3 linked regions of the Homo sapiens genome follow. The protein of the gene in region 1 purifies or fractionates together with the protein of each later gene. This does not show direct contact. Each region holds a gene or a part of one and is shown in the gene's direction. Other genes may lie near its edges.

What was found.
Region 2: the proteins of ARX (region 1) and PIK3C2A purify together in Homo sapiens (affinity purification with mass spectrometry; one large-scale study listed by BioGRID and IntAct). This does not show direct contact.
Region 3: the proteins of ARX (region 1) and MRRF purify together in Homo sapiens (affinity purification with mass spectrometry; one large-scale study listed by BioGRID and IntAct). This does not show direct contact.

What each region holds. Positions count from the first base shown.
Region 1 is NC_000023.11:25,003,173-25,006,100, reverse strand, and holds the end of ARX (homeobox protein ARX), read left to right. Parts: intron 1-1,190; coding exon 1,191-1,431; 3' UTR 1,432-2,407; downstream 2,408-2,928. UniProt on the Homo sapiens protein: Transcription factor. Binds to specific sequence motif 5'-TAATTA-3' in regulatory elements of target genes, such as histone demethylase KDM5C. Positively modulates transcription of KDM5C.
Region 2 is NC_000011.10:17,113,980-17,117,635, reverse strand, and holds part of PIK3C2A (phosphatidylinositol 4-phosphate 3-kinase C2 domain-containing subunit alpha), read left to right. Parts: coding exon 1-145; intron 146-3,170; coding exon 3,171-3,275; intron 3,276-3,656.
Region 3 is NC_000009.12:122,274,733-122,278,388, forward strand, and holds part of MRRF (ribosome-recycling factor, mitochondrial isoform 1 precursor), read left to right. Parts: intron 1-3,656. UniProt on the Homo sapiens protein: Responsible for the disassembly of ribosomes from messenger RNA at the termination of mitochondrial protein biosynthesis. Acts in collaboration with GFM2. Promotes mitochondrial ribosome recycling by dissolution of intersubunit contacts.

The sequences.
Region 1 (2,928 bases):
TAAACCCAGGCGAACCGTGGCTGGAGGACCGAGTTGCGAGATTCGGAGAGGCTGGAAGAGGGTCTGGGCTGGGGTGGTGCGAGGAGTGAGCAGTGGGCTTGGGAGAAGGAGGCGGCGCTCGGTGAGCCCAGGTGGGCTCATTTCTAACCCTGGAAATCCGGAATTGGCCCCGCGGGCCTGGAGCCAGACCCCTCAGGGAGGCGGTCGGGAAAGCTCGCGGGCGCTCCAAGGCGGTGGGCGTGGGGGTGGTGTCCGGTGGCCCCGGGCGGCTCCGGCCACAGCTAATGTCCCGGTGCTGTGTGCATGGGGTGGAAGCGTCACGTGGAGTAATTCGGTCGCCGCTTGGAGGCGGTGGCGCTGGCGTGGGTCCCAGGCTTGGGCATCGCCTTGCGCCGCGCGCCAGGGTCGTGGGTCGGGGGCTCCCTGAGGCCAGAGGCTACAGGGGCGCGGGGAAGACAGCTGGGGTCGCCGCGCCAGGATGTGGGGCTGCTGGCAGGTGACACCCGCCCGTGGAGCCGAAATCAACAGGCGGTCGCCCTTCACTCTCACCCGCAGGCGCTGGCCAGACGCGGGTAGCTGAGTCCCGCGCGGAAGGGCGGCCGCGGCGGCGCGGGTGGCCCGGGAGGCCGGCGAGCTAGGCCTGTTTCTTCAGGGCGCAGAAAGTCCCGGGCCAAGGAGCCGGAGGGAGATCTCAGAGCCTGCGGCGTGCGTCCGGGCAGCTGGAATCCCACCTTCTCCGTCTTTTTTTTCCTCCCCCCTCCCACCCTCCACCTTCCCTTCTTTTGCTCTCCTCTCCTTTTCTCCTTCCGCATTCTCTCCTGGGAGATAGTGTCATTGCAGCCCCTGGCCTTGGAATAAACCGTCCGTTTAAGCGAAACCACCGAATCCACGCCACTGGGCCGTGGGGCTTGAGGTCTCCACGCCGGCCTGTGGACCCCGGCCCGGCCCGGCCCCTCGGGGAATATCTGGACTCGGTCTTTTCCCCCCAGTCGGTTCCCTGCCCCAGGAAAGCCCTCTCTGCGGGGTCCAGCTTCCGCCCGCGCCCTCTGCCCACTTCCCCGCCGCGGCCCATCCGGGTCCCGTGGGTACCGCGCCCCTCAGCTGCCCCGGCGACAAGCGGCGGGAGACGCTGCCCGAGGCGCCGCGCACAGCTCCCGAGGCCATGACCGCGCTGTTTGCTCTCCCTGCAGGCTCTTTTCCACAATGGCCCCCCTGACCAGCGCGTCGACCGCGGCCGCGCTCCTGAGACAGCCCACACCCGCCGTGGAGGGCGCAGTGGCATCGGGCGCCCTGGCCGACCCGGCCACGGCGGCCGCAGACAGACGCGCCTCTAGCATAGCCGCGCTGAGGCTCAAGGCCAAGGAGCACGCGGCGCAGCTCACGCAGCTCAACATCCTGCCGGGCACCAGCACGGGCAAGGAGGTGTGCTAAAGGCTGCCCTCCACACCCGCGCCCCGCGCGCGCCCCGAAAGGTCACCTCACTCAGCACCACTCAAGACCAAATGGAAACAGAGGACCAGCACACTCCCGAGACGGCACTGAGAGAGCGCAGCCGCCTTCACAGCAGTCTGGATGCGGGCATGGCAGCCCTCGGCGCTCCGGGACGTGGCACCTCCTCGGCTGGCTGTCCACCCGCCCCTGCCCCTGCCCCTGCTACTGCCAACCTCGCTCCAACTCCAACATCCACTCTCTCTTGTTCTTACTTTCCTGAAAATATCGGGGAGGTTTTCTCCCCCAGACGCCTGATATTGAAGTAAAAAATTTAAAAAGCCCAACCTCTTCCTCCTGACACCCCACTTAGCCTTTCTTTTCTTTCTTTCTTTCTTTCTTTTTTTTTTTTAAATAGCATTTTGGCGCTCGAAGTTGATCTCCCCAGCGAGGGCCCCAGCGTGAAGCCAGGGCCCGGGAAGCAAATGCGAGCCTGTAAGATAGCTAACAGTGCACTTAAAGGAAAGGGGCGTCTTGTTCTTGTTCTCTTCTTTATCATACACCAACCAAGGTTTTTATATCAAACCAAAGGGAAATAATACTCTGCTAGAATATGGACTGTTGAAGTCACCAAACTGTGATTATTGATTCTGTACATACCATTGTTATTAAAAAAAAAAAAAAAAGAACAGAGCTTTGTATATTTGAAATGTTATAACGCAATTGCACTCAGCGTGGTATGGTAAAAGTTTGTCCTCCCGTAGATTCTTACTGTGTTGTAGATACGGTAGGGTTCCTAGACAAATATTTATGTACTCAAGCCCTTTATTTAACTTATTAACTGTAGAGGCTTCCGAAACCTTCAAGATAAAGGCAATGGTACAGTACTTTTGTGTAATGTGTAATTGTTACCACTTTTCCTTGCTATCTAGTGGAGAAGTGTCACGCTCAAAATAAAAAAATTATATGTTTAACAAAACGAAGTGTGAATGCTCCATACAGGCGCTGAGGGGACAGTAGAAGCCCCCACCCCCACCCCCCGGGAGTCAAGGGTGGGCTCCAGCGTCCAGGCATCTCCTGGGATTATCTGCACACGCGTTTTCCTGGCAGAGGCCCCTGGTTTGAATCCGATCCTCAAAGGGAACCGGATTTCCTACGAAGGTTAAGGACGCCGCCGCGGTACTTTCCACGCGCACCTGGGCTCTCCCGGGTCGTGTCACAGCGGGAGCTGGGGGTCCCGGGCCACGGAGGTGGGGTGGGTTCCAGGATGGGTGGGTGGATGGTGGGCGTTGTTGACGGTGGAGTCAGAAATTTGAAGCAAGCGGGAGTCTTGGCTCGGAAGGCGAAGGGAGCTGTTGGAAAGTGCCACGTAGCCAGGAAGTGAAGTGCGCAGTCCGAGATGACAGGTAATGGCGAGAGCGAGAAGCCCAGGCGCTCCCTTCCGAGGGGGCGGGCTCCACGGCATGTTCGCAGGGAGGAGGGAGTGTGTGTGTGTATTGT
Region 2 (3,656 bases), on another chromosome or scaffold:
TACCCGATACGAACATGTTTTGGGTGCTCTCCTGTCAGTAGGAGGAAAACGACTTAGAGAAGAACTTCTAAAACAGACGAAACTTGTACAGCTTTTAGGAGGAGTAGCAGAAAAAGTAAGGCAGGCTAGTGGATCAGCCAGACAGGTATGTACCCATAAAAGGTAATATAAATGTGTTAATGTTAAAGGAAGGATCTTTATGGTGCTGACTAATTAAGTTGCTATTCTTTATTGGTAGACTCCCAGTAGAACTCTAACTATACCCATGCTATTTGGGGCAGATAAATTCAAAGATTGTTTAAAATATATAGGAACATATTTCACAACCTATTAAAATCAGTGATTTTCCCATGCTTATTTATTTCCATGCTTATTTATTCCTTTCTGATGAAAATTGTTTTCTTGAATTCCTTTACCTCCACTATCAAAGTCCACAGTATTTTCATCACACCAAAAAGAAAGCATGTCCCCATTTTCCCCTCCCAGCCACTAAACTGTTTTCTGTCAATATGGATACGTCTATACTTCTATATGGATATTCTGGACACTTCATGGACTTTTCTGTCTAGTTTCTTTCACTTAGCATAAAGTTTTCAGAGTTCATCTGTGTTCTAGCATGTGTACTACATGCCATTTTTGGTTGAATAATATTCCATTGTGTGGATATACCACATTTGGTTTAAACATTCATCAGTTGGTGGACATTTGGGTTGTTTCCACTTTTTGACTATTAATAATAATACTGCTGGCCAGGCGTGGTGGCTCATGCCTGTAATCCCAGCACTTTGGGAGGCCCAGGCGGGCAGATCACGAGGTCAGGAGATCGAGACCATCCTGGTTAACATGGTGAAACCCCGTCTCTACTAAAAATACAAAAAATTAGCCAGGCATGGTGGCGGGCGCCTGCAGTCCCAGCTGCTCGGGAGGCTGAGGCAGGAGAATGGCGTGAACCCGGGAGGCGGAGCTTGCAGTGAACCGAGATCGAGCCACTATACTCCAGCCTGGGCGACAGAGCAAGACTCTGTCTCAAAAAAAAAAAAAGAATACTGCTATGAATATTCATGTATAAATTTGTGTTTAAACAACTGTTTCCACTTAGGAATGGCAGAGCTAGGTCATATGGTAGTTCTGTGCTTAACTTTTTGGGGAATCATAGAATTATTGTCTGTAGCAGCTATATCACTTTACATTCCCACCAGCAATATAGAAGGGTTCCAGTTTCACCACATCCTCACCAACATTGTTTTTTTTCCTGTTTTTTGATTATGGCCATTCTAGTGGGTGTGAAGCAGTATCTCGTTGTGGTTTTGAGTTGAATTTCCCTAGTGACTAATGATATTGAGCACATTCTCATATGTTTATTGGCCATTTGTATTCTTTGGAGAAATATCTATTCAAAGTCCTTTGTCCATTTTAAATTGGAATGTCTTTTTTGTTGTTGAGTTGTAAGAGTTATTTATATATTTTGGATACTAGACCTTTATCACATACACTATTTGCAAATATTTTTTTCATTCTGCAGTTGTCTTTTTAATTCCTTAATAGTGTCCTTTAATATATTAATACAAAAATGTTTAAGTTTGATGAAGTCCAGTTTATCTATTTTTTTCTTTTGTGGCTCATGCTTTTAGTGTCATATCTAAGAATCCATCATTAAATCTAATGCCATAAAGATGTACACCTGTGTTTTCTTCTAAGCTTTTCTAGTTTTAGCTCTTATGTTTAGGTCTTTGATCCGTTGTGGTATGAAGTAGAGGCCCAACTTTATTCTTTTGAATGAGGTTATCCAGTTGTCTTAGCACCATTTGTTAAAGAGACCCCCTCCTTCCTCTTGAATGGTTTTGGCGTACTTGTCAAAAATCAGTTGACCCTGTGCTTGCTTCGGTAACACATATACTAAAATTGGAATGATACAGAGAAGATTAGCATGCCCCCTACACTACGATGACATGCAAATTCGTGAAGTGTTCTGTTAAAAATTTTTAAATAAAAAAGTTGACCACATATATGGGTTTTTTTCTAGACTCTCAATTCTATATCATATATGTCTATCCATATGCTATATTTGTTTTTTTTTTTTTTTTCCTTTTTTTCCTTGAGATGAGGTCTCTCTGTTGCCCAGGCTGGAGTGCAGTGGTGTGATCACAATTCACCACAGCCTCAGCCTCCTGGGCTCAAGTGATCTTCTCGCTTCAGCCTCCCAAGTAGCTGGGACCACAGGTGTTTGCCACCATGCCTGTCTTTTTTTTTTTTTTTTTTTTTTCTTGTAGGGACAGGGTTTTGCCATGTTTCCCAGGCTGGTCTTGAACTCCTGGGCTCAAGCAGTCCTCCCATTTTGGCCTCCCAAAGTCCTAGGATTATAGATATGAGCCATCCACCCAGCCTATACTTTTTTTAATTACCATAGTTTTATAGTAAGTTTTGAAATTGGACAATGTAAGTCCTCCTACTTTGTTCTTTTTCATTATTATTTTTGGCTATTCAGGGGACACTTGCAATTTCATATGAATTTTAGGAACCGTGTATCCATTGCTGCAAAAAGGCAGTTGGAATTTTGATAAGAATTATAGATTAATTTGGGGAAATATTACATACAATCTTAATTATAAACTATTACCTCTATATACATTGTTTACCTGTTTTCTCTTTACTAAACAATACTGCAATGAACTTTGGTTGGTGTGTACATTTTTATTTCTTTGCTAGTATTTCTTTCAGAAAATTCCTACAGGTGAAATAGCTGAGTCAAGAGCGACATGTATTTTTAGTTATAATAGTTGTTACATTGCTCTACAAAAGAAGCTACACCTGTGTACACCTCTCTCCCTACCAATAAGTTATGAAATCGTTTCCTAACACAGGATGTTGTTTTAAATTTTCATCTGATAGGTGAAAAACTGCATTCATTTTTGTTTGGCTTCTATTTCTTTGACTATTAGTGAGCTTTAACATTTTCGTATACATTGGTTGGCCAAATGTACCTTTGCCCACTATATTTATAGCCTTTGGCCATTCTAGTTTTATAGTAAAAATTAACTCTCTTTAGTAACAACCTTTTTTTCACCGTTTGACAACTGGGCATTTTATAAATTGTATCCACAGCATAACTTGTCTGAAAAATAGATCTTCATTTTCATTATGTACTTACAGTATCACATCTCTTTCTATAGGTTGTTCTCCAAAGAAGTATGGAACGAGTACAGTCCTTTTTTCAGAAAAATAAATGCCGTCTCCCTCTCAAGCCAAGTCTAGTGGCAAAAGAATTAAATATTAAGGTGACACATAAAATACTTATAAGTTCATATTACATTTGAAAATAATAGGAAGAAGGCAAATGGGCAGGTATGCTTAAGGCAAATGAAGGTAAAACCTGCACAGGTTGGTTATAAGCATGGATGGTTGTGATTAGGATCCATATTTATCTTAGCATATTTTTTTACCTAACCACCATTCCTGGGAAAAAAAAAGTATAAAATTATTTACTGCCTTGGGCTTCATTTTTTTAAATTGGTCTCACCTTTTTATTTATTTATTTATTTATTTATTTATTTATTTTTTGAGACAAAGTCTCACTCTTGCCCAAGCTGGAGTGCAGTGGTGCGATCTTGGCTCACTGCAACCTCCACCTCCCAAGTTCAAGCGATTCTCCTGCCTCA
Region 3 (3,656 bases), on another chromosome or scaffold:
GATTTCTACTATTTTTATAGTCATGTCCATTTTTTCTTTCTTAATATTATTTATCTGCATCTACTTTCTTCTTTTCTTAATTGTTCTTGACAGAAGTTATAAACCTTTTAAAAGAGTCTTTAATTTTTTGATCTCTCTTTTTTGCAATTTTATGATTTCTGTTCTTTATTATTTACTTTCTCCTGTGTACTTGTTCTGTTTCTATCCTCTGAGTTGGACAATTAGTTCATTAATTTTTGGTCTTTCCTGTTTTCTTTTTTTCTTTGAAAAATTTTATTATAAACATGATGCTTTGATATACATGCAGTGATATGGTTACATACATGCAAATTAACATATCCATTATCTTACATAGTTACCTCCTTTTTTTTTTTTTTGCGAAAGCACATAAAATCTGTCTTAGCAAAAAATCCAGAGTATAATACAATATTACTAACTATAGTCCTCCTATTGTACATTAGATCTCCAGACTTGTTCATCCTACATATCTACTACTTTGTATCCTTTGATTTATATCTCTCCATTTCCTCACCACCACCACCACCCCACCCCGCTGACCCCTGCTAAGTATTATTTTATTCTCTGTGTGTATTCATCTTTTTTGTAGATTCCGCATGTGGTTAGGCATGGTGGCTCATGCTCATAATTCCAGCACTTTGGGAGGCCGAGGCGGGTGGATCACTTGAGCCCAGGAGTTCAAGATCAGTCTGGGCAATGTGGTGAAACCTCTTCTCTACAAAAAAAATACAAAAATTAGCCAGGCATGGTGGCATGCGCCTGTAGTCCCAGCTATTCAGGATGCTGAGATGGGAGAATCACCAGAGCCCAGGGAGGTTGAGGCCTGTAGTGAGCTGAGATCGCACCACTGCACTCCAGTCTGGGTGACAGAGTGAGGCCCTGTCTAAAATACAAACAAGCAAACCCCAACCCTGAGATTCTGCATACAAGTATAATCATGCAGTATTTTTCTGTGTGTGGCTTATTTTGCTTAGTGTAATGTCCTCCGGGTTCATCCATGGCAAATGGCAAGGTCTCGTTTTTTAAGGTTGAATAATATGCCACTTTATACACAAACACACACACCCATACATGCACCCACATCATTTCTCTATCCACAGACACTTTGGTTGTTTTCATATCTTACCATTGTGCATAATACTTTCTTCTTTATTTTTATTTCTTATTGTTTTTTTGAGATGGAGTCTCCCTCTGTCACCCAGACTGGAGTGCAGTGGCATGATCTCAGCTCACTGCAGCCTTGTCCTCCTGGGTTCAAGCAATTCTCCTGCCTCAGCCTCCCAAGTAGCTGGGACTATAGGCACTTGCCACCACGCCCAGCTAATTTTTGTATTTTTTTTTTTAGTAGAGATGGGATTTCGCCATGTTGGCCAGGCTGGTCTCGAACTTTTGACCTTGGGTGATCCGCCCACCTTGGGCTCCCAAAGTGCTGGAATTACAGGCATGAGTCACCACGCCCAGCCTGTTTTGTTTTGTTTTGTTTTTAAAGTATTAAGGTTAGAAGTTTCTGTCTAAATACAACTTTAAATGCTTCCTATAAGGTTGTTTATTTATTTTAGAGATAAGGTCTTGCTTTGTTGCCTAGGCTGGAGTGCAGTGGCACAATCATACCTCACTGTAACCTTGAACTCCTGGGCTCAAGTGATCCTCTCGCCTTGGCCTTCCAGAGCGCTGGGATCACAGGTGTTGAGCCATCGTGTCTGACTTGAGTTTTTGACATTGAATATTTTTATTATGGTCATTTCTCAATATTTAAACATTTCCATTATGCATTTCTTTATAGCCCATGAGTGTTTATTAAGAAGTGTTTAAAGTTTTTCAAACAAATGGTTGTTTTGGGGTTAGCTTAATTCTACTCTGTTCAGAAGGCATGTTCTATATGATATAGATTCTTTTATTTTTGTTGAGATTTGATTTGTGTGTAAAACATGGTTGTTTCATAGAAGGTCCAAGTGTGCTTGAGAATAATGTGTATTCTTTTTTTCTTGGGTGTATTGTATTAGATCAAATTGACTAATTTTATTGATCAACTTTTCTGTTTTTTTATTTGCTTACTTATCGGTTATCAAGGAAGGTATATTGAACTCTCCTAGTATGCTTGTAGATTGATCAGTTTCTCCTTTTTTGTTGTTTTTTGAGACGGGGTCTTGCCCAGGCTGTAGTGCAGCAGTGCAATCACAGCCCACTGCAACCTTAATCTTCTGGGCTCAACTGATTCTCCTACCTCAGCCTCCCAAGTAGCTGGGACTACAGGCACGCACGGCCATGCCTGGTAATTTTTGTATTTTTTGTAGGGACTGGGTTTTGCAATGTTTCCCAGACTGGTCTTGAACTGCTGGGATCAAGCAATCTGCCCACCTCAGCCCCACAAAGTGCTGGGATTACAAGTGTAAGTCACTGCACCCAGCCAGTTTCTTCTTTTAATTGTATTAATTTTGAGGCTATCTTATTGATATATTTAATCTTAGAATTGTTATATATCTTTCTGGTGAATTGTTTCTATTATCATTTTGAAGTTGTCTTCATGATTTCCAATAGTGAATTTTGTCTTAAAATCTTTTTTGTTTGATGATAATGTAGCTACACCAGCCTTCTTTTGACTGATGTTTGCCAGGCTTATAATTTTTCCATCCCTATACATCAAACTTTCTGTGATCTTTTATAATTTTTAAAAACCGTTATGTTATATTCAGCTAGATTTTTAAAAATCTTACTGAGAATCTCCCACTTTTAACTTGTCATTTTGATCCATTTATATTTATTGTAGTCACTGCATATTTGTGTTATTATTTTATTTTGTACTTTCTTTCTTTTTTTTGAGACAGAGTCTCACTCTGTCGTCCAGGCTGGAATGCAGTGGTGCAGTGTCGGCTCACCGCAACCTCCGCCTCTCAGGTTCAAGTGATGCTTGTGCCTCAGCCTCCCGAGTAGCTGGGACTACAGGCATACGCCACCATGCCCAGCTAATTTTTTGTATTTTTAGTAGAGATGGTGTTTTGCCTTGTTGGCTAGGCTGATCTCAAACTCCTGGCCTCAGGTGATCCGCCCGCCTTGGCTTGCCAAAGTGCTAGGATTACAGGCATGAGCCACCACGCCTGGCCTTATTTTGGACTTTCTTTATATCATGTTTTTTCCTTTTTTCTTTTTTTTAAATGCATATTTAAAAATTTTTTTTATTGATACATATTTGTACATACTTATGGGGTATATGTGATGTTTTGTTACATGCATAAATGATTTAAGTTAGGGTATATGGGGTATCCAGCATCTCAAGCTTTTATCATTTTTATGTGTTGGGAACATTTAAAGTTCTTTTAGCTGTGTTGAAATATTCCTTTTTTTCCTTTTTTCTTCTTCTTTTCCCATTAGATTAAATTTCTTTATCCCTCTCTCTCTCTTTTTTAAATTCTGCTGATTTGGAAGATATACTTTTAATTTATTATTGTTTTGATGGTTACCCTTAACTAATTTTTTAACCTTTTTATAGAAATAAAAAAACCCTGTAGGAAAGTGCAGCTGTCATAAATTTCACAAGCTGAAATCACTTACAGCACCCAGATAAAAAAAACAGAACATTCTTAGCATGTCAAAAGTCCCCTTTGTGCTTCTTTCTAGTAAGTACTACCCTTGACCCTTTG